Homo sapiens: one gene and its partners. The protein of the gene in region 4 interacts with the protein of the main gene of each other region in a pairwise test. Each region holds a gene or a part of one and is shown on either strand. Other genes may lie near its edges.

Region 1 (3,500 bases), on a different chromosome or scaffold from region 4:
GCCAGATTAGAACCTGGGCAGTCTGACCCCAGCTAAGCCATGCCCCCACCTCATGCAAGGCCCCCTAACCTGAAACACACAGAAGGGGGCTATTGCGCTCTCCTTGGGAAACCCCACACCAGGCCCTCACCTCATTTATCCCTGCGCCCGTGGCCTCTCTGAAATCCTGTTTTCTCGGGGCTGGGCCCCCTCCCAACTCTGACAGGGCCCCTGAGTTCTCAACATCTTCTTGCTCCACTTCCCCTTTCTTGCTGGCTGGCCCTGGCTTGGATGCTGGGCGCTGAGGATGGCCAAGGGCGGCCCGCCAGCCCTCCTGGCACTGCCTGCTCACCCTGGACCATCTCAAGCTGAAGGGCAGCACACTTCCACCTGGCTTGTGCTGCAGCTGTTGCTAGACCAGCTTCGCTTGTCAATCAACAGTTCTGCTCATCCGCTCCATGCCACCTGCCCACAATCCCCAGGCCCTGGAAGACCCCGGTAGCTGGGGCTGGGACAGGGGGAGGCCTGCGACCAATAGAACAGAGGGAGGGCAGGGACCGAGTCCTCTGAGAGGTGGCCTGGAGGTTCCGGAAGCTGCTCTGGCCCAGACCTGTGAATGTTTGCTGCCAGCAGCCCTGTGGCAACACTGCTCCATGTGGTTCTTCTTAGGGCCCTGTCAACACTCATGCAGGTCCTGAACTGCGTGCGCCCACAGGGGCTTCACCTCTAGCTCTGGGGCAGGTATCTGGTAAGCCCCACACCTCTAGCTGGGAGGGGCTGGGTCTCTATGTCTGCCTCTTCATCAATCTGAATCCAGGGCATTGCTCAAAGAGGTCACTGGGGAGAGGTTGGAGCCTTGAGCTCTGGAATCAGGCTGTCTGGATTCCAATCCTTAGCCATGGATTGGAAGTGACCTGGGCAAGTGGGTTCACTTCTGAGCCTCTGTCCCTTCTCTACAAAGCAGGGCCCCGAGAGCTGACCCAGCCAGCTTCCTCCTCTGTGGTGTGGGGAAGGCAAGCCACCCCGTGTGGTGCAGGATGGGGTGGAGGGACCAACGCAGTAACACGCACGGAGCGCTCCGCCTGGGGTCTGGTCAGGCTGAGCACTGGGCAAACTGCCATCAACTGTGGCTGAGGATGCCAGCAGTCCCTGTGCTCGGGAAGGGAGCACTCGGTACATGGGCAGCTTGCCGGGCCAAAGAGGGTGTGAAATGAGGATGACACTGAGGATGGGGAGTAAGCGTGGTAGGAGCAGTATCTGCCCATGAGTGCACAGGAAACCCGAGCTGGCAGTCAGACTATCGCCTCATTATGGTAAATAAACACCTACATGCCGCACATCCTGGGACCTGCGACCCAGTGAACGCTCACATGCTGTCCGAGGTGCCCAGTGGGCCAGGGCTGTGATTAGTGGTGCCAGGCATTTGAAGACACTGTGCTGCTGAGGCCTGGTACACAGGTGGGCTGTTGCGATGGGAGCTGTTCTTGGACTCAGGGTCCCCCTTCCCCACTGTGGGCCAGGCTAGGGCCTCACCTTTCTCGGAGGGAGGCTGCAGGATCAGCGTGTGGGCCTTTTCAATGAAGTGCAGCTCCTGGGCCACGTGGCATGCAGTGAGCGGGTTGTCTCCCGTGATCATGACCACCTTGGGTAAAGAGGGGCAGAGGCTCAGCATGGCACCCTGGGGCCAAGCTCTAGGCCAGAGACAAGGCTGCCAAGTCTCCTTCTAAGGTAGGCCACAGTGGGAGATCCTGGGCCTCTAACCGAGATGCTGAATGGGCTTCCAAGGGCCACAACCCACCCCCACCCAGGTCATTTTACACAAATGACACGTGTATGTGCGTCCTTCTGAAGACACCCTTAGCTTGGATTTGCAATACAAATGAACAACCTGCCCCTGAGGTGGACCCTTTTGGCTTGGTAGCTGCCCATGGGGGTAATATTTCAGCAAAGAGGAGGATGGGACCATGACCTCTGGGCTTGGTGGGGACTAATCACATCACCCATGTGACCCAGAGCCATCATCCTCTGAGACGGCTCACTCACCCCTTACACCCTAAAAGACACCCTAAGTCCCAAAATAGAAAACACAAGCCACCAGAAGCCACCAGGACAGGCAGACAGTGCCCCCCACCCAACTCCCCAGCCTCAGCTTCCTTCTCTCCAGGACGGCGGTGGAACGGGGAAGTGGAGAGAAGTGCCCCCATCTTCCCATGATGCGGGGAGTGAAGGGAGTGGTCTGTGGAGGAGAGAGGAGCCAGCACAGGCGGGTCCCAGAGTGTCCTTGGGCCAGTGGCAATGTTAGCACCTGAGCTATGATCTTGCTCAGCTAAAACATGCAGCCTGTGAGACTTGGGTGCCCACCCCTACCACGAAGCTGTAATTGTCATCTCCTCGCCTCTATTTCCCATGCAGAGGGTGGAGCCGAGCACCGTCCCATACCCGGTGGGACGCATTCTGGATCTCCCGGATCACGGCCTTGGAGTCAGCCTTGAGCGGGCAGGAGACCACAATGAAGCCGACGAACTTGAGGCTGCACTCCAGGGCCTCCCGCTTGACCTCCCGGGCCTGCGGACAGACAGGGGCACCCTCACCATCTGTCCCTCCCTCTGCCCACACTCTGCATTTCCTGAGCTCTGACCATGCGCTGGGAGCCAAGGGGACAATGGAAGGCCCTGTTCCCGTAGTGGGCACATGCGAGGGTTGGGAGGGGAGAAATGCCAGGAGGGTACCAGGCACGCTTGAGGGGTGGGATCTGGCAGTGACTGGGGGGTCTGGGTCCCCCGAATGTGGCTCTATGTCCTGCTTGCGGACATGGGCACATCACAGAGTCCCTTGTGGCTCAGCTTCCAAGTCAATGAAGTAGGGACTCTCCCAATAATGTTGGAGTTTAGCCAGGAACTCTTACTCACTGGGGCTCCACCACATACCACAGACTGGGCACAGACCCCTGGCCTTAGGGAGCTCACACTGCACCAGGGGAGACGCATGATCAAGAAAGTCACAGAAATCGGAGTGCTGAGTGCCATGAGAGAGGAGGTGAGAATGGAATCCAGAGAGGGTGGAAAGGCCTCAGAAGTGGCCACTATGAAGGCGATGAGGACCTGTGTCACTGGGAAGGGGGCTCCAGGTGCAGGAACGGGGCAGAGCATGCAGGCTGTGAGCTGTGGCCTGGGCTCTGCACACAGTACTGCAACCTGAGGCTAAATTCTGGAAGGATCCGCAGCTGTAGGGTGCAAGCAGAAAGAACGAGAGCCCAGGAAGAAGCCAAGCGGCAGATGTGCCGGTGGTGGAGGCGGAGGGTGGGCTTTGTGGAGGATGGATGGGTGAGAGGGCTGAGGATGCCACCTAGCCCTGCCCAAGACCAGGGCAAAAGAGTAGAGCTAGGGACACACCAGGACTGGGGCAGGTAAGCCCTGCGTGTGCTCTGCGTGAGCCAGGACTGGGTGGGTCCCCACAGCAGTGGACAGACTGAGTGCCATTTGGAGTCTCCAAAGGTAGAAGCTGGAGGCGGGGCAAGGAGG
Region 2 (4,002 bases), on a different chromosome or scaffold from region 4:
TCTGTCCCCCAGGCTGGAATGCAATGGCATCATCACAGCTCACTGCAGCCTCAAACTCCTGGGCTCAAGCAATCCTCCCACCTCAGCTCCCTGAGCAGCTGGGACAACAGGAGCATGCCACCATGCCTGGCTTTTTTTTTTTTTTTTTCTGTAAAGAGAGTCTCCCTATGTTGCCCAGGCTGGCCTCAAACTCCTAAGCTCAACTGATCCTCCAGCCTTAGCCTCCCAAAGTGCTGGGATTACAGGCGTGAGCCTGGCTTACCACAAGTTTTATTACATATTCATTTTGTGTTTGTTTAATGTCTGTTTCTACCAACAGAGTATAAGCTCTCCAAAGTCCACCAGTGGGTTTTTAAAAAAATACATTTATTAAGGTATAATTTACACACTAAAATTTGCACTTCAGCCTGGGCAACAAGAATGAAACTCCGTCCCCCCCCCCCAAAAAAAAAAATTGAACGTAAGGCTGGGCAAGGTGGCAAGGTGGCTCACACCTGTAATCCCAGCACTTTGGGAGGCAGAAGCAGGCAGATCATCTGAGGTCAGGAGTTTGAGACCAGCCTGGGCAACATGGCAAAACCCCGTCTTACAAAAAATACAAAAATTAGTCAGGCGCAGTGGCAAGCACCGGTAGTCCTAGCTACTCGGGAGGCTAAGTCAGAAGAATCGTTAGAACCTGGGAGGCAGAGGTTGCAGTCAGCCGAGATTGCACCACTGCACTCCAGCCTGGGCGACAGTGATGCCCTGTCTCAAAAAAAAAAACAAAACAGTAATTTACACTATTATAGTCCCCAAATTTAAAATTTGAATACGATGATGGAGGAGCTATGCAGCGATGGATTGAGGTTATTCATAACTGATTATAAAAGCAGTTATTTTATTGGTGGGGAAACACTGACAAGTCAACAGATTCATTTCAGCCATTTTCTCTCCTAAAACAATGACATTCTAATAAAAAAAACTAACATTTACACCACCCAATGAATTATGCCACTGCAATATGCCCTTCTACATTTTCCAAGAACTTAAGCTGTGTCACACACGTGTCTAAATTAGTAATAAAATTAAACTGGAGAAACTATTACTCCAATTTTAAAAGCAGCACGGATTAAAAAAGTAAGAAGGGGGCAAGGCACGGTGACTCACGCCTGTAATCCCAGAACTCTGGGAGGCTGAGGCAGGCGGATCACTTGAGGTCAGTTCAAGACCAGCCTGGCCAACTTAGTGAAATCTGATCTCTACCAAAAATACAAAAATTAGTCAGGCGTGGTGGCGGGCGCCTGTAGTCCCAGCTACTCAGGAGGCTGAGGCAGGAGAATCGCTTGAATCCGGGAGGAGGAGGTTGCAGTGAACCGAGATCGCTCCACTGCACTCCAGCCTGTACGACAGAGCGAAACTGTCTCAAGGAAAAAAAAAAAAAAGTAAGAAGGCGCTCCCAATGGATATACAAATAATTATCAGTCCATTCAATTCCATCAACAAGCACTTAGTAAATGCACAGTACCTGTGAGAAAACCAGGCCAACAAGCATTTCAAGGTTACCAAAAAAGGAAGGTTGAAAATAGCCTCACACTAACCCAGCTCTAAAAAGACAAATAATTCAAAACCACCCTTTAATGTCTGTCTCTCTAAACAGGTGCACCCCAGTTAATGTTAATAGTCTGCATTACTACTGGTAATGATTCTGGCTACCATTTTAGATTATCAGATCCTTCAAAGTAAATGCCCAACTTTTTTCACTGATTAGAAGGCGAAACGGGGAACCAAATGAAATAATCCACCGTCTTTCTAAAAGTCAGTTTGATTTTAACTGATTACAAACAAAAAGGGCTTAACAGTTTCCCACTGCGCAAATGTGCCAACCGATTCCTACAACCTCATCTAGGAAACCAGGCGTGCCACGCGAACCCTAATGCTATACAAAGTGTCCCCCTCCAGCCTGGCCTATGCAGAGCGCATTCTAGACAAGGCCCCAGTGCACCAACAGCCCAATTTTGGCTATATTCTCTGAGCGATTTAAGGAAGTCCGCAACCACTCATCTCACGTGACCTTAAAAAGGGGCGCAGTTGAGCCCAGAATAAAACACACTCCTTTTTCTTCTACATCAACTTCACTGCCCAGCATGAAGGAAGTGGGCGGGGAAGAGGCGCAGCGCCAGCGGGCAGGAGAGGTCAGCAAAGAAACGTGGGGTGTCGCGCCATCTACTCTGGAGGGGCTGGAGGTGAGGGGCACGCCCGCTCAACTGCACTGCAGCCGCTGCAAATCCAAGGCTGCCACACCCCCCGGCAGCCAGGGACACGGCTTCATCTTCCTCTTTCTCCAGCGGAAAGGGGGCCCTCTCCACGGAACGCCCCACCTGCTAGAGTCCTCCACATCCCGAAACGCAACGCCCGAGAGCAGGCGCGGGTGGCAGGCGGCGCTGGGGGGCAACAGGAGGGGAAGGGCCGCGGCGACCTGCAACCCGCGCATGCGCAGATCCGGGTACCCGCCCGTTTACCTACCGTTGGAACCGCGATGCCCCGTTCCCTGGCCGCGGCCGCTTCTCCAGGACCCGCGGCGACGGCAAGAGGGCGAGAACTGAGGCCCCAAGTGGCTCCGCGGCCGAGAAGCCTCTTCCTGGGGCGGCCGCTGACGGGAGGTTAAAGCTACGGCTGTGGCGCGGGGCCAGCCCGGTAAGCGACCCCCCGGATACCCCCGGCGGTGGTGGCGACGCAGACGCGGAACAGGGGGAGAGAGTGGCGACAGAGGCGGCGGCTGAGGTGCAGAGCCTCCCTAACGGCGAGCGGGAGGAGAGCGGCTGGCGGGCGGAGGCCGGGCCGGACGTGACGTGCGTGGGAGGGGGCGGGGCAGGCCGCTGGTGGGGGCGGGGCGGCGAGGGTCCCCACCCCCACAGCATTCCGGGCAGCGGCCCTGTGTCCTGCAAGCTTGAGGACCGCGGTTCCTCTCCCACCAATTGGGGTCCTGAATTAGGGTGCGAGCAGCCAGGCGCCATCCCGGGGCGGGTTGTGGGGTCCTCGGTATGGGGAGGTTGGGAAACAGAGAGGACACTGGGGAGAGGAAAGATAAAGGGAAAATCCGGAACACAGAGATCGCTTCTGGTCTCTGCGGAGGAAGCCAGGCCCCCAGGGCGCCCATATCCAGGTGAGGAGCACAGAGACCTGAACCGAAAACCGCTGGGGGAGACCTAAGCGGTGACTTCGGTTCCCATTCCCAGAGATGTGAGTTAGATCCGGGACCACGGGGCTGCACCTGCGTCCTGCCCGCCCCCACCCTACCCCTTCACCTCAGGACCTGACCTAGACTCCAGAGAGAACAGTAAGGCTTCGGTGCCTTAGTCTGGGACTGTGGAAGTCGATAGGCTGCGGGCTTACAGGGAGCTTCGTATACTAAAATCAGCCAGCTGCGGAGGCAGAGCTGAAAGGAGGCAGAAAGAATGAGCTCTCTGAACTTGCATGGCTACCCAGACCATCCCTACAACTCCCTTGAACTCACAAGGGTATGAATATTCAGCCAATCTCTTCTTTGTTATAGTCTGTTAAGGGCTTTGAGATCTTCCATTTGGACTCCTTGACAGCCGGTAGATCAACACCTGCACAAAAAATAGCAGCCACCACAATTCAGTTGTCCCTTACCTACCTGAGCTGGAAGTTAGTAACTTGGAAAATGTAAAACAAGAACCCTCATAGAACTTGGGACAAGATTTGAAAAAAATAAAGTTACCCTATGAAATGATCTGTAAATGGGCTACAGAGGCCACAGTGTCTCCCACATTTCATCAGAGAGAGTAAACCATGTGTAACCTAAGTGTCACATACCCAGTTAATGCTGTCATAACCGAAGGGTGGGGTCCACAAAGAGTCTAAAACCAGAAGAATCTGAATAAGAATGTTCTATGAGGCTCCCAGGAACTCTGTCCAGGAACGAGGCAACTGATTCTAATGACCAGAACCAACACTTACTCTCAGGGCAGTTAAATCTTAATTCAGATTCACTCACTCATT
Region 3 (3,500 bases), on a different chromosome or scaffold from region 4:
CAGTGAGCCAAGATCACGCCATCGCACTCCAGCCTGAGCAACAAGGGCAAAACTCCGTCTCAAAAAAAAAGTAGAATAGAGCTTTCTTCCCACTCCCAAGGGCCCAAGAAAGTGTCATAGCACCCCTAGAACGCAGGATGAGCTGCAGGTTGCAAGAGGAGGACGAAATCAGTAATAATCATCACAACACTGAGGCCCCATTTGTTGGGGACCTCGAGGCTAGACGTTTAACATGGTTTTTTTTGTTGTCATTGTTGTTGTCTTTTGTGAGATGCAGTCTCGCTCTGTTGCCCAGGCTGGAGTGCAGTGGTGCGATCTCGGCTCACTACAACCTCTGCCTCCCGGGTTCACATCATTCTCCTGCCTCAGCCTCCTGAATAGCTGGGACTAAAGGGGCCCGCCACCACGCCCGGCTAATTTTTTGTATTTTTAGTAGAGACGGGGTTTCACCGTGTTAGCCAGGATGGTTTCGATCTCCTGACCTCATGATCCGCCTGCCGTGGCCTCCCAAAGTGCTGGGATTACAGGCATGAGCCACCTCACCCGGCCTTTTTTTTTCTTTTTTTTTTTTTTTTTGAGACGGCTCTGTCACCCAGGCTGGAGTGCAGTGGCACAATCTTGGCTCACTGCAAGCTCCACCTCCTGGGTTCACACCGTTCTCCTGCCTCAGCCTCCTGAGTAGCTGAGACTACAGGTGCCAGCCACCACACCTGGCTAATTTTTTGTATTTTTTTAGTAGAGACAGGGTTTCACCATGTTAGCCAGGATGGTCTCAATCTCCTGACCTCATGATCTGCCCGCCTTGGCCTCCCAAAGTGCTGGGATTACAGGCTTGAGCCACCACGCCCGGCCAGCATATGGTATTTCTAATTGTCACCAAAAGCCGACTATGGTGTGTACTGCTACCAGTGCTTCACAAATAACACTGAGGCTCAAAAAGGTTAAATGATTTTCTAAAAGCCATACAGCTAGCTAGCAGTACAGCTACTCTTTCCACTGCACCTTTCTGCTGCCCCCCAAAACTTGGATGGCTGCTCCAAAGCCAGTACAATGCCTAGCGAGTTGTGTAGGGGTGGCCACTAGGACCTCTACCTCATTATCATTTTTTCTCTTTCCATACATGAAGTGCAACAGAAACAAAGTCATCAACTCTGATTAGCCAGCCCCTAACCATGAGTCCTAAACCCTATAGAAGAAAAGACCGAATGTTGCCACAATCCTTCTGTCCAACCACCTGAAGCATATAACCAGGGTGTCAAAGAAGAGTCAAGTTCAAAGGTTCTAACTCTCTCTGCAGGTAGGACACTGTGGGCACAAGAACTTCAGCATCTACTAACAGATCTCTAAGCAGCACAATACTCTATGCTTACCCCCTAAATTAAAAGTGCAATCCATTTTTCTTGAGCCCACTGGGCAGCTGTGCCTACTACAATCTAAAAAACCATTCAGGGTGAAACTGTTAGTGTGCTGTAAAAAGAAATTAAACAATAATTTTTAAAAATAAATTTTAAAAAAGCCATTCAGGGATCCTCATCGTCCTTGCCAAGGCTACAGAGCTTACAGGAGGCTGAGGCAGGCCCAGCCTCATTCTTCACCTCTCCCACTCTTCCCCACATATCCCACTCCCCTCTGACTGCCCCACTCAGTCCTGGGAGCGCCACAGGAACCAAGCTGCCTTATTCTGGAATTAGAATCCCTGGCCACCTTGGAAATTTACCTCAAAGTTTTTCTGCCACTCTCTTTCCCGTTTGGCTTTTTCTTGAGCTTCAATCTCTTCTTCCCTTTGTCGTTTCCTAGGAGGAAAACCAGATCATAGTATTTATATGATACTTACAGACTGAATTAACCATACAAGGTGGCATCTCCCCACAGAAGCAAGCATATATAGTAAATCAATTCCCTAGAAGTCTACAAAGATGGCTGTCTGGAAAGGGCTCATAGCATTTTCATGAATGTCTCATTCTAAAACACGCAGATCAGACTTGGGCATGGCTGTGGGGAAAGACATAAATATCCTTGTTACACAGATAAAGTAACTAAAGCCCAGCCAAGAGCAATCTGAGGTTTTGGGCTCTTTCAGTGACAAAGCTATGTCGAGAACACAGGCCACCTTATTTCAGCAGAATGACCATTATAAAGCCAAAGTTCTTAAGATCTCTGGACAAAACCCTATCCGAAAACAAAGATATTTCACACAACCTCAACTAGCAAATTTTAGTTACTGGTACCTACCAAGCAACAATATAAAATACATACAGAAACAAAACTCGGCCGGATGTAGCGGCTCATGCCTGTAACGCCAGCACTTTGGGAGGCTGGGGCAGGTGGATCATGTGAGGTCAGGAGTTCGAGACCAGCCTGACCAACATGGTGAAACCCCGTCTCTACTAAAAATGCAAAAATTAGCCAGGCAGGAGAATCACCTGAACCTGGGGAGGTGGAGGTTGCAGTGAGCCAAGATCATGCCATTGCACTCCAGCCTGGGCAACAAAAGCGAAATTCTAACATTTCTGATGTTCAAGAGAAATCATATTTTAGAACATTAAACATTTTGTTACTGATGACACTACAGTACTATACACTCACCAAAGCTGTAGCCACTAGCCCCACAAAAGGTTCTGGCTTCAGTAACAATGGCCTTAATAACTGCTTATTTCACTCCAGGACATCAGGAAGAACACACACAAGGCTCTTGATTATAAATAAACTCCCTGGCAGCATGCAGTGGCTCATGCCTGTAATCCTAACACTTTGGGAGGGCAAGGCAGGCAGATCACGAGGTCAGGAGATCGAGACCATCCTGGCCAACATGGTGAAACCCTGTCTCTACTAAAATACAAAAAATTAGCCGGGCATGGTGGTGTACACCTGTAGTCCCAGCTACTCAGGAGGCTGAGGCAGGGGAACTGCTAGAACCTGGGAGGTGGAGGTTGCAGTGAGCCAAGATCGCACCACTGCATTCCAGCCTGGCTACAGAGCAAGACTGTGTCTCAAAAAAATAAATAAAAAATACACTCCCTAAGGACAGACCTATTCAATAATTCTCAAAAGTCAAAGAAAAAAACTACTTACCCTGGTGATTCAAAAGCTTGACTGTTTTTAGGTAACTATTTTTATAGTCTCTTAAATGGTATACTATATAATTCCCTCATTAGGAAAATCACCAAAGACCAATGTTAGTTAATCTAGGTATTTAAATATGGTTTAAATGAATATACTGATATGTACCTTTCATGCATCTCTTTGGCTTCTCTCTCTTTCCTTTTAATTTCCAGCTCTGCAAAGAGTTTCATTGTCTGTTTATATACAGCTTGTTTGAACTACAGGAAAATCAAGAACAAAAGAAAATCAGAGTAAATATTTTTACCAGCAACTTGAACCATGTACTTTCACCTGGAGTCCAAGATAAAGCAGATTAAAACCTGGCACAGGCTGTGCACCGTGGCTCACATCTGTAATTCCAACACTTTGGAAGGCCAAAGGCAGGAGAATCGTTTGAG
Region 4 (3,500 bases):
TCAGGTTTTTATTTTTTAATTTACAGAGTAAGCTTCCACACTGCATCTTAAGAGTGTTTTTGAAGGGAGTGAAACCATCTGGTTCACATCAAGAACATATTTTTCCTTATATAGAGCTAGACTGCATTAAGTGGTGGGCACAGGATCTCATCATCTTCCTGCCTGTGGTCAACATCTTCCCCAATGCCCTTGTAGATATACATTAGGCAAAGAGAAAAAGAACGTTTTAGGGTAAAATAGTGCAGTCTCATTCCTAGCCATTTCTTTCTATAGACATGTAAGAAATGTCTATAAATGTAAGAATATGAAAATAGATTGGATTTTTACTTGTGAATCTACAGCTAAACTTAAATGATTCTATTACTTAGTATAAAGCTTATGCACATTTTATTGTACCATAATTTAAAAAATACCTTTTTAAAAGATTACCTTTTCTGTTTTTCTTTTTCCCAGAAGTAATGCTAACGCGTCGTATAAATGTCAAGTTACAGAAGGATGTAAAATAAAAGTAAACATATCCTTACCCTCTATTACTTTTCTCTGCATTTACTTCCCAGAGGTACTACTAATAGTTACCTATGTCTCCTTCTAGGACTTGTATACACATGCATATAAATATGTATATTCATAAAAAATGCATACACATGCATATAAATATGTATATCTATAGTTTTTTCTTTTTGTACATCATAGTATTTTCTTCTTTGTTTCATTTATTTTACTTATGATGGCTAGCAGATTTCCTACATCAGCATATATAAATCTACCTCATTCATTTTGATGGCTGTACAATATTTCATTCATTGTACTCACACATAGTTTATTTAACCAGTCTGCTATTAATGAGCCTTAATCTTTTTTTTCAGTTTTCCTTTTGGCTGCTACAAAAATGTCCCAATAATAATATTTACATATATGCACTTTTGTACTTATATGAATGTATCTATATAATAAATTCTAACAGACTGTTGAACCAAATTGTTTGTATATGCTAAGTTTTTGATAGATATTCATAAAATGTCCTCCGTTAAGGTTATACCAATTTATAATACCAAGAATCTGGGTTTTATCAAATCATTTTTTCTTTATCTGATAAGTAAAAGGTATATCTTTGTTTTGACTTGCATTTCGTTAATTATGAATGAGGTTGAACTTCTTTTCATTTTCTTATTGTTTCCATAGTAATTCTTCTACGAGTTTTCTCAGCCATGGCTTTTGCTCATGTTTCAATTAGGTTGTTTATTGTTTCTCACATTAAAGAGCTCATGTTATGTTAAGGAAACTTAAATTTTACATGTAATGGCTGGCAAATAGCTTTCCCAGGTTTCTTGTTTAGATGATAACTTTGTTTATGGTACTTTTTACTGTATAAGCATTTATTTTTATGTAGTCAAATTCATCAGTATTTTTAATTATATATAGGAGGATTTTTTAAATAAGAAATTTATTTAAAGTTGAAGAGTTATTCAAGAAGATTGTATATAGGTTAATTTTTAAACCAACTTTAGCATACCAAGTTTAGCATTTAGGCATACCAACTTTAGCACTGTTATACAGAATAATGTTAGCATTGGAAGGATCTATTAACAAAAGAAAGTTCCCATAAAATGATTTCTTCTATAAAATATCATGACCGTGTGAATTCTGTGGACTCTTTGTGAGACACTAGTGTACCACAGGAAAAAAAAATGACAGAAAGGGTCAGATTTATAGTACCATTCTCCAGAGAGTTAATAGTAGTTGTCTAGTACCTAAAATCTAGAGTGAATTATAAATAAAGTAATAGAAATTCCAAGACAAATAGAAAGTAAAAAATATAAAATCAATAGAGATCCATTATAGAAAATTTTGTAGGTACATACAAAAGAAAGAAAGAAAAAAAATCATCCTCAAAAGCTCTTAAGATTTGTTGTATATTGTTCCTAATTTTTCTTATTGGCTCCACAGATATGCATGCATTTAAAAAACATGTAAGTGATTTTACTAACAAATCAATCCTAACATAATTAAATGAATTTCATTAAGATGCCAATAACCCAAGACCTTAATGGCACCTTGACAAGCATCTACCAGGTATACACATACATGGGATCACACTTACGATTCATATGTTATACAGTGATTTTTTCACTTACTACTATCTTTACTTGCCACTAAATATTTTAAAATATATAAATTATATATTACATTTTATATTTATACAAAATATATAACAACTGTAATGTTCTATCATATGGCTTAAGTTAATGGAAATTAAAAGGAATAGGAATAACTGTGTGTTCTCTCAAAAATCCACTCTGGTAACTCAGTAGATAATAGACCAGGACATACTCAAGAAATCATTACCCAAGAATCACATCTTTTTCATTCATGATAAAGTGGCAGCAATTAACTGTGTAACTGAGGGCTGGGAGACATCATGATAAAATGTGTTTTATATGAAGTGACATCATTTGAATGGGAGAGTTAGATTATTAAAGCTGGGTTAATGGAAAATTCTCATTCTAAGGGCAGGAGCATTTGAATTGATGGCAAGAAGAATTTGAGTCAAAAAGTAAAGTATATGTGTTGATGAAATTGTAAGTGTGAAGGAAAATATATGTGCTGATAAAGTTGTTAAGTATATGAAATTTACTAGAAAAAAATGCTATGCTACGAGAATTTTTCCAACTGTTAAAAAGAAAAAAATGCTATGCTATGAGATTTTTTCCAACTGTTAAAAAGAAAACCTTGTGCAGATTGCATTCAGCCACAGCCACAAATATTGGGGCTTAGTGAAACCAGGGGACTCTTAGGGGCTATAGAGGGTGATCACTGGTACTTTATTTTTTATTAGTACTAAGAAACTCTGCCTGCTATGTGTAAGATATCTTTTGGGTATTTCTCCTTCTTTCAAACTTCCACTACTTGTCATGATGGCAGCCCTGGATTGATTTTGCCCTAACCCATAACTTACAAATTAGATGTTGTAATGTCAGTGCTACCTGAATATCTACAGTTCTAGATTCAAGGAGCTGGTGAAATTTTATCTCCTACAAATTTTCTCAATACCATTGAAAAAGTGGCTGCTCAGTCCTGTTGGCACAGGTTTCCCCTCAAACATGATCCCAGGGAACCCATACACACCTGTCTTTTGACCAACATCAATAAGCCCCTGTCAAAACAGGAGATATTCGGACAGATCCAACTGATGGCTGTCAGAGAATCTACCTGCACTGGGTGAAACAGCTCAGGGACTGAATCATTTGGGGAGTCACTGGCTTGAGCATTGACTGGTTAGTAACTATATTTTACTACATTTTTGTAAACCATGCTTGTAGTAAATAAGCATTTATATTAAAAGCTGAAAAAGTAATATGTAATTTGAGTTGGAATGCTGAACAGTCTATGTGTATGTAGAAAACAGAAAATAACTTGTCCAATCCAAGGGAGAATTTACTTTATAGCATGAGAGCACCAAAAAGTAAACAGAAAATTTTGGATTTTTATGGGAAAAAATA
Region 5 (2,165 bases), on a different chromosome or scaffold from region 4:
AGTGCTACAGAAAGCACAAAGAATTGATTCATGTTCATCAATACCTGCTGAGAGTACTGTCCCAGGAATATCCAGTGGATGGATTCATCATCCAGGAGGTTCAAAAGTAAGATGGTTTTCAAATCATTTTTGAGACTGGTTGCATAACAGCAGGGTACCTGAAAGAGCCTTCTGGGAGTTAGTGAACTAGGTAGATTGTTTTGTTCACATAACGCCACCATCAACTTAAAGTGAATTGTCTTTGTTATAAATGAGGTCACTATGGACTTACCCTAAAGATCTTCTGTACTTCTGTCTTCCATAGGACAAATGATAAGTACTACATACCTCATCTCTTGGGTTATTATTGTAGTCTTGCATTCATGGTTATGAATTTAAAAATAAATACCAATTATGGAAATAGTACTAAAGGCTTGCCGCACATGAAACATTATTTTAATTGGTTTAAAGTCCCTTTATAAAGAGTGCTACATGGTTTAGATAAAGGAAACATATAACTATTGAGTTACAGGGGATTTTATTAATTATAAAATGCAATCAATTTAAATTACGTAGGTTTAAGACTAGTCCCTTGGATAAGCCCCAAGCGAATTTGTCTTCAGATTATTAAAATTAGTGCTGTAAATCAGGGTGGGCAATTCACAGCCTTTCTGAACTGACTGAACTAGAGCTTGCAGTGAAGTGTTCTGCTGAGACTGAGCACCTTACAGATATTTTTCTCCAGAAGATGGTGCTGGGTAATAAAATCATCACAATTAGGGAATGGTTAGTGGTCTCTACTGTGGCAAATGCCAACTGTTGGAATTCACTTTATTGTAGAAAAACCCAAACTGAGACTCTTAAGTTTTGTTTAGCAATGTGTTTCTGGTATGAAACAAACTACTGTGTCACTGTCCAGGTAGGAAACAATTCTTTCAACTGGGTTTTCAGCATAAATGGGAACTGATGTAGAAGGCAGGATTTAGCCCTTCTAGGCAAAAGAAAAGCTCAGTTGGGTTTCACGAGTGTTCCTGTGCTTATATTCAGTCTGTGCCTACATGTTCTCATGCATGTCTAACCTGATTTACCTCTTACCTGTAACCTACCTTATCATGTGGCTTTTAATTGACAGTCACTCAGCCATTTCTAAGCAGATATAGTAGTACCTTTCAGAACTCACATTGGCAAGTGTAAAAAGATGACTTAAGGTGAAGTGAGGACAAAATCACATTCTGCATACTAACCTATTTTTTTCTCCCTTTAAGGTGCTAAACTTGCACCTCATGTCCACTCAGTAACAAGTATTGGGACGTAGAGCACAGCCTCACTCAGCTCTGAAAGGTAATACAGCTTGTGAGGAAGTGAGCCAGCAGTGGCCTTTGCAATTGTGGATCTTGAGCTCTGCTCTCAGCAGATTTCAGGTGTAACCATTTGTTAACTGTACTGAAGGTGTGTCCTCAAGAAGAAAGTGTTCAAATTAAAAAAGCTGCTGCCAAGTACACTGTGTGGTCTTCTCCTTTGAATCCTAGGGTTCTATCCCTCTTCAGAGTCATGTTTCTGGTGCTGCTACTTTAAAACACAGCTCACAAGAATAACTAACTTGCTCAAATATGGAGAAAACTCAATAGGGTTCAGGGAGGTTCTGGCAGTGTGCAGTGTGAAATAATCCTGAGTCCTTGCTGAACACAACTGTAGGCTTGAGTTATAAAGCACATTCCAAATTTTAAATAAAAGCATTTACTCAATTATTATAAAACAACATATTTAAAAAGATGAACCACACCAAAGGTCATCAAAACACCTTTTTATAAATTAGATAATTCTACCTGTTTTACAATATGGGTTTAAGCCTTCAATGGTGTTCAGTTCAGGTGTGAGTCAGCTCCTGGTGGTGTCAGAAGTTTACATGATTGCGGATATCATTGATTTGCTTCACCATTTCCCTTATATGTTCACCCCTGTAAAATTGTAAAGTCACTCACTTTTGGAATTATAATAAACCATTTATATGGATTCTTAAGAATTTAAACTGGTAATGTTGAAACATCTAAGAACTGCTTTGCTAAAATTAACAGCTGAAGGTTTCAGGTGGATAGCAATAGTGTTCACTATTCATTTAAGGTGGCAAACGGTGCAAGTACTGGAAATATTTTTGAACATAATTACTGTAAAATACCTTTGGCCAC
Region 6 (3,500 bases), on a different chromosome or scaffold from region 4:
ATTGACTAAAACCTGAGAGGAGCTGGGGCGAATGCCCACACCTTTTTCTTCCTAAGAGGCAATGTGACATTCTTGATACTTCTGACAATGGTTGAAAAATTTTTTTTTTTGAGATGGAGTCTCGTTCTGTCGCCAGGCTGGAGTGCAATAGCATGATCTCGGCTCACTGCAACCTCTGCCTCCCAGGTTCAAGTGATTCTCCTGCCTCAGCCTCTCAAGTATCAGGGATTACAGGTACCCACCATCACAGCCAGCTAATTTTTGTATTTTTAATAGAGACGGGGTTTCGCCATGTTGGCCAGGCTGGTCTCAAACTCCTGACCTCAGGTGATCCACCCTCCTCGGCCTCCCAATGTGCTGGGGTTACAGGCATGAGCCACCGTGCCCGGCCTGGTTGAAACTTTTTGAAAACCCATAACCAATTACCTTCACAGAAACGAGTATCACCATCTGACCCATACATAGTACCTACTATGGCATTACACACTGTTCTAAGTGCTTCACATTTTTTTAAAGAAGTTTTTGGGGTTTTTTGGTTTTTGTTTTTGTTTTTTTGTATTTTGTTTTTAGAGATGGGGTCTTCCTACGTTGACCAGGCTGGTCGTGAACTCCTGGACTCAAGCGATCCTCCCATCTCAGCCTCCCGAAGTCCTAGTACTACAGGCATGAGCCACGGTGCCTGGGCAACATGTGTTAATTCAATCCTCACAATCACCCTATGAGACAGGTACTTGTAATCCTCTGAAGCAGGCAGTACTATTGTCTCCATTTTACAGAGGATAAAACAGAGGCTGAGTAAATGGCTCAAGGTCATACACTTCACATCACAACCCAGGCCTTTTGGCTCTTACCCAGTCAGCTGCTGCTTCTTGGATGAGGGAGACTGGGGTCTTACCCAACCCATCTCCATCCTTTCTAGAAGTAGATAGAGGGAGGCATCAATACTAGACAAGATCCCTCCCTCCTCCTTCATGCAGGCTTTTCTTTGGACCTGCCTTTGCCCACATATTCATTCCCCATTTCCCTACCTCCATGGGCCTGGGACATGCGTGGCTAGGAGGCCACTAGACACAGAATGGCTGCAAGAACTGCTTTCTATAAACACCCTCGGGGAGAACATTTGAACCATATATACGGATCTAGAGTCTAGAAGGGACCGTCTGTCTTTCTCTACTGTCTAGGACTCACAAATCCCACCAGAGGTACTTGAATCAGAATACTACAGGGCCTAGGGTGGGTGACTCTGGGAGCCCAGCTGCCACCTCCCACACATCACAGATGAGAAAGAGAGATTCAGAGCAAACCAGCTTGGTCTCACACCAATCCCCTCCGTGGTCCTAAAATCCAGGTCTTTGGACTTTTGTTTCAACACAATTTCTGCCAGGCTGCACTAACTTACTTCTTTTTGTTACCATAGTCCTTCATGACAGAAAACATCCTCCTCCTAGGATCTTCTAAACCAAGCCTCTTCAAGAAGGCCCACAGACAGACAGAAAGCCAGCCCTCCCACCTGTGCGCAGTAGCAGGCAAGCCTTCTCCTCCATCTGGCCTAGTCCGGACATATATTACAAACAGGCTTCTAAAAGCCACTGCAGTCATAGATGTGAGACAGAAAAAGGAGAACACTCAGGAATCAGCTAGCCAGCAGGTAAAGGACTCCACAATTCAGTTGGAGGAAGGAGAAAGAAAAACAAATACACAATCAATCCTTCAGCCCCCAGAGCACCCTTTCCATGGCTGAGGAGGGCGAGAACATCCAAAAAGCAGGTCACGCCATTGAGCCAATCCCAAGATCCACAACATCGACAGAAGCAAACAAGTCGTTCTCCAAAGTCAGATATGAAAGCAGAAAGCACAAGCATGTATTGTTCACCTCCTCCACCATGGGCCCCTCTCATTGACACACCAAGGCATTTGAAAACCTTCACATCTATCCTTCAAAACAACACCCTTCCTTTTTACAAATGCAAAAACTAAAACTCAAGGAACTGCATCTCTACACTCACTGACTACACAACCACGCTGGTAACAAACACTCCAGGAGGGCTCCACTTTGAAGAGAGTTTGAAATTGTGGGCTTAAAAAGAAACAAGTTATCTTTGAACCGTCTTTCACAGTAAAAACTCAAGGGCAGCTATGACTTCAATCAACATGAGGATAGTAAGAGAAATCAAGTACAAATGTATACTGACTCACTGATCGGTAACAGAGAAGAGGGGTTCTTAGAAAAATGGGGAGGGAGAAGATTAAGAACAAAACTGTACCTGCAGTATGCCTGCTCGTTTTCAAGAAGGAAACCTGTTCTTTTGGCACCAGCCCCACAAGTACCACGTGGCATCCCCTCAAGGGCAGTGAGCCATAGGGGCCAGGGCACACAGATCTGGAAAATCTTGGACATGCATCATTTGGGTGCTAGTGAGCACTAGTCAAGCTGGTGTCGACTAAAAGGGGCCATCTCAGGCCTGCACGCCAGTCTCCTGGGCGTGCAAATTCCTCCGGCCATCAGGAAACACAATGGCTGCCAAGCTGATAGGCCCCGAGGAGACCAGAGGGTGAGGATTTGGAAAGAGGTGGTGTTGGCCCCGGCCTAGGCCAGCCAAGAAAGCCAAGAAAGGTGATTCGCCAGTCACAGAGTAAGCGAGCGGGTGAGGGCTGACAAGCCCTGTGGAGAAAAGCAAAGCAGACTTTCAGAGCAGTCACAGACTGCCATTGCCACCACCACCCGAGTCCTCTGGAGCACCCCCAGCATTCATGTTTTCAAAGAATTTTGCCAGCCCAAAGTGGGTCAGGCACTGAAACCCAAAGGGAAACTCAGCAGACCCCGGCTCCCATGTAGTCAACCTGAAGATAACGCTGACTTTCCGGGGGGATGAGTGGCTTCAGAAACCTGCCCCACGATACTCAGAATTGCAGTTACCCTGAGCCATCTGCTTTCTGAAAAGAACAGGGTTTGAAGGTGGCTGTGAAAGCCACCAAGTTATGTGGGGCACTGCTTTGCCTTCCCCAACAAGTGTGTCAGCCTCAACTCTGGGACTTGCGGGTGATCCAGTGGGGTAGAGGGAGAGCAGTTTCTCGTGCCATGAGCTTCTTCAACAGCCATGACTTCATTCTTTGGCCACGACCCATAGTAAGAAATCCATTCTACATCATAACCCAGCACACCCACACGTGTAAACAGACATATAAATAACTGAAAAATGGTTGTTCTTCGAGTGAAACAATACTTACCTTTACTGCATGTGGTGATACACTGGCATTTCTTATGCTATTTCCTTTTTCTTTTTAATGCTTGTTGAAACCCAGTAAATTGATTTCACAACTCAATAAAGGGTTAGGATATGCAATTTTGAACAATTCCAGCTCTGCCACCTATCAGCTGTGTGACCTGGGGCAAGTTACTTAACCTCTCTGTGCCTCAGTTACCTCATCTCTAAGGAGGGGATAATAATACCTACATCAGTGAGTTGTTCAGCAGATCAAAGAAATATTTGAAAAGTACC
Region 7 (3,500 bases), on a different chromosome or scaffold from region 4:
GTAGTTCTTTAAATCTGTTACGAAAATAAGCTTGTAGCTGTTTTCTCCAGGAAAGGAAATAATGAGAATTTCAGTTGCAGTTGGCATATGGAACCCATGTATTTATTTTTCATCCCTCCCAAAACCCCACTAAAATGATAGTAAAGGAATAGAAAAAAACAAAACAAAACACCCTTAAGGACAAAAGAATGTGAGATGAAACAACAAAGGATGAGAAATGTTAACATATTTTTGGAAGCTGGAATGCAAGTGGAACAGCAGGTAGCAGAGCTGAGAAAGTTGAAGCCTCAGTCCTGAAAAAAAGGATGCAAATGAGAAGCATGCTTATTTGCCCTGAAGAGGTCTGGTAAGGCCCATAAACTAGAGGCAATAGGTACCATAGAAGGTGGTGGTAAGGAAAAGGTGAAAATAGAGGAACATGTTCAAAGTCTGAATAGGAAACAGATTCCCAGGTTCCCTTCCCTATTCCACAGAGCCAAGCATTTCCCTCTCTCTCATCTCTGCAGAAGATCAGAGGCTTGAGAAAGAAAAACTAGGCTGGGCGCGGTGGCTCACACCTGTAATCCCAGCACTTTGGAAGGCCAAGGCGAGCAGATCACCTGAGGTCCAGAGTTCGAGACTAGCCTGACCAACATGGAGAAACCCTGCCTCTACTAAAAATACAAAATTAGCCGGGCATGGTGGTGCATGCCTGTAATCCCAGCTACTCAGGAGGCTGAGGCAGGAGAATGGCTTGAACCCGGGAGGCGGAGGTTGCCGTGAGCTGAGGTCACGCCATTGCGCTCCAGCCTGGGCAACAAGAACAAAACTCCGTCTCAAAAAAAAAAAAAAAAGAAAGAAAGAAAGAAAGAAAAACTAACTAGGGGACACAAAATACAGTTGCAGGCTCCTAGAATGATGGTTGGAAACTGGCAGGAGACTGGAGTTCTTTTCCAGATAAACTAAATAGTCCCAGATAAAAGAATTACAGAGAATAATGTTTGGGGATTCCCCAGAGAAACAACCTGGTCCACATCCAATCACCCTACAGTGAAGCCCACCAATCCCCGAGCTCTGTGTATACCCAGAGCTTCTGATATGCTTTAATGTCTCATTCTTCCATATAAACAGACATACGGAACAACTCAGAATAGACAAAGACAACAAAGGCAAATGAAGAAAATTTAAAATTGATACCCTTAGAGCAATAAGAGAAAGTGTAAAGATCAGGATGTTATTAAAAAGGAACATTCAGGGAATAAGAACTCTTATTAAAAATAAAAAAGTTGGCTGGGCGTGGTGGCTCACGCCTGTAATCCCAGCACTTTGGGAGGCCAAGGCGGGCAGATCACGAGGTCAGGAGATTGAAACCATCCTGGCTAACGCGGTGAAACCCTGTCTCTACTAAAAATACAAAAAAAATTAGTCGGGCACGGTGACAGGCGCCTGTAGTCCCAGCTACTTGGGAGGCTGAGGCAGAGAATGGCGTGCACCCAGGAAGGCGGAGCTTGCAGTGAGCCAAGATCGCGCCACTGCACTCTAGCCTGGGCAACAGTGCGAGACTCCATCTCAAAAAAAATAAATAAAATAAAATAAATTAAAAAAGTTAACATCAAAATAAAAAATTAAAAGGGTTAGAAAACATTCTCCCAGAAAGTAGGATACAAAGATAAAGAGATGGCAAGTAGGAGAGAAAAGAAAAAAATCAGAGGCTCAAAGAGGCCCAACATCCAAACTAACATAATATACTGACAGAAAAAGAAATGGGAAGAAAACACTCTTGAAGAAACACTTTTAAAAAACTTCCAGAACTGAAGGATATGACTCTGGAGATTGAAAAGGGTTACTAATTACTTAGAAAAAAGACTAAAAAGAGATCAGCACACAATCATAAAATTTCAGAACAGCAGGGATGCAGAAAGGGTCTAAAAGCAAAAAAAAAAAAAAAAAAAAAATCCTAAACAAAGGTTCAGGAATTCCAATGCCTTCCTACTTCAACAATAAAATAGGGAACAGAATGATGCTTTTCTTATTTCAGGGGAAAATTATTTCTAAACTATTCTATATCCATTATATGCACATTTGAAGATAGAATAAAGGCATTTCAGACTGTTACCACCTATGTATCCTTTTCTCGGAAAGCTATTAGAGGGTGCGTTCTACAGTAAAGGAGGAAATCAAGAAAGCAGAAGACACAAGATACAGGAAACGGAATACAATATAGATCAGCAGCACAGGAATCCTCCAGATGAACCTGTGCAGCTGGCCTGAGAGCAACCAATTTAGATTTGGATCAGAATGAAGGGGGGCTGGAACAGAGAGATTACCTGTTGACTTTCACCCTGTGGAAAATAATATTAGGACAGATTTTATGTTATTCTTATTTTTTGAGACGGAGTCTCGCTCTGTCACCAGGCTGGAGTACAGTGGCATGATCTTGGCTCACTGCAACCTCTGCCTCCCGGGTTCGAGTGATTCTCCTGCCTCAGCCTCCTGAGTAGCTGGGACTACAGGTGCACGCCACCACGCACAGCTAATTTTTGTATTTTCAGTAGAGATGGGGTTTCACCATGTTGGCCAGGATGGTCTTGATCTCTTGACCTCGTGATCTGCCCGCCTCGGCCTCCCAAAGTGCTGGGATTACAGGCGTGAGCCACTGCACCCAGCCGGGACTTTATAATTCTTTTAAAAAGTTCGGGAAGAACTAAGCCAATGTACCCCAAATAATAAGCCAATGAAAAAAAGGCAAGGTGAGAGTAGGGAGGGGTGACTTATGTAAGAAAGGAAATACTACCTGGCTTAGCAGCAAACATGTAGTAATATAAATAACGAAAGCTGATCTAACAGAAAAAAACAAAAAACAAAAAACAAAAACTGTGATGTATCCTTACTGGGAGAATGGGGAGAGGGAAAAAGGGAAGCACTGTATAAACAGGCTAAATCCCCATCTTTCAAAAATATTTCATTAATTCTAAGATGAACTTTTTCCATCTCTGAAATTGGGAACAATTATAATTGGCAGTGTTTTTTCTCTTTTAGTGACATATAAAACAATGGTACTTCTTATAACGGATAACACAGATTTGATGAAAAATAGTCAAGGTCTAAAACTGATAGACCAAGAAAAAGCAGAAGATGCTCTTTAGAAACATCAAAGGAGGACGAGGAGCAGTGGTTTATACCTGTAATCCCAATACTTCAGGAGGTCAAGGCTGGAGGATCACCTGAGATCAGGTGTTCACGACTATCCTGGGCAACAGAGTGAGACCTCATCTCAACTAACTAACCAGAAACACCAAAGTAAACATTAGAAGCAATGAAAAGAACAGAAAGTTGCTGCACCTGGAAACTGGGAATTGTGGGTGACATTTTAAATCTTGTGAGTTGACTTTTTAACTTGTGCTTATATTAACCTTAGTAAAAATAAATATTCATATTTAAAAATCAATGAAATTAATGTGGTAAATAAAAAACAAAGATCATACTACTTCATAAACTTACAGAAGGTGGCTTATCCACAA

Evidence for each region.
Region 1: the proteins of AGTR1 (region 4) and ATP13A1 interact in a two-hybrid assay, tested with the Homo sapiens proteins (one large-scale study listed by BioGRID and IntAct).
Region 2: the proteins of AGTR1 (region 4) and FAM13B interact in a two-hybrid assay, tested with the Homo sapiens proteins (one large-scale study listed by BioGRID and IntAct).
Region 3: the proteins of AGTR1 (region 4) and DNAJC8 interact in a two-hybrid assay, tested with the Homo sapiens proteins (one large-scale study listed by BioGRID and IntAct).
Region 5: the proteins of AGTR1 (region 4) and NUP88 interact in a two-hybrid assay, tested with the Homo sapiens proteins (one large-scale study listed by BioGRID and IntAct).
Region 6: the proteins of AGTR1 (region 4) and PPP1R3F interact in a two-hybrid assay, tested with the Homo sapiens proteins (one large-scale study listed by BioGRID and IntAct).
Region 7: the proteins of AGTR1 (region 4) and ADD3 interact in a two-hybrid assay, tested with the Homo sapiens proteins (one large-scale study listed by BioGRID and IntAct).

Annotation. Positions count from the first base shown.
Region 1 is NC_000019.10:19,650,177-19,653,676, forward strand, and holds part of ATP13A1 (endoplasmic reticulum transmembrane helix translocase), read right to left. Parts: intron 2,545-3,500; coding exon 2,419-2,544; intron 1,622-2,418; coding exon 1,513-1,621; intron 1-1,512. UniProt on the Homo sapiens protein: Endoplasmic reticulum translocase required to remove mitochondrial transmembrane proteins mistargeted to the endoplasmic reticulum.
Region 2 is NC_000005.10:138,030,280-138,034,281, forward strand, and holds the start of FAM13B (protein FAM13B), read right to left. Parts: upstream 2,801-4,002; 5' UTR 2,503-2,800; exon of another isoform or gene 2,495-2,502; intron 2,445-2,494; exon of another isoform or gene 2,051-2,444; intron 1-2,050.
Region 3 is NC_000001.11:28,202,030-28,205,529, forward strand, and holds part of DNAJC8 (dnaJ homolog subfamily C member 8), read right to left. Parts: intron 3,321-3,500; coding exon 3,229-3,320; intron 1,794-3,228; coding exon 1,718-1,793; intron 1-1,717. UniProt on the Homo sapiens protein: Suppresses polyglutamine (polyQ) aggregation of ATXN3 in neuronal cells.
Region 4 is NC_000003.12:148,704,403-148,707,902, reverse strand, and holds part of AGTR1 (type-1 angiotensin II receptor), read right to left. Parts: intron 1-3,500. UniProt on the Homo sapiens protein: Receptor for angiotensin II, a vasoconstricting peptide, which acts as a key regulator of blood pressure and sodium retention by the kidney.
Region 5 is NC_000017.11:5,384,333-5,386,497, forward strand, and holds the end of NUP88 (nuclear pore complex protein Nup88), read right to left. Parts: intron 2,009-2,165; exon of another isoform or gene 1,938-2,008; coding exon 1,874-1,937; 3' UTR 501-1,873; downstream 1-500. UniProt on the Homo sapiens protein: Component of nuclear pore complex.
Region 6 is NC_000023.11:49,276,293-49,279,792, reverse strand, and holds part of PPP1R3F (protein phosphatase 1 regulatory subunit 3F), read right to left. Parts: exon of another isoform or gene 2,399-3,500; coding exon of another isoform or gene 2,265-2,398; intron 1-2,264.
Region 7 is NC_000010.11:110,126,484-110,129,983, reverse strand, and holds part of ADD3 (gamma-adducin), read right to left. Parts: coding exon 3,481-3,500; intron 1-3,480. UniProt on the Homo sapiens protein: Membrane-cytoskeleton-associated protein that promotes the assembly of the spectrin-actin network. Plays a role in actin filament capping. Binds to calmodulin.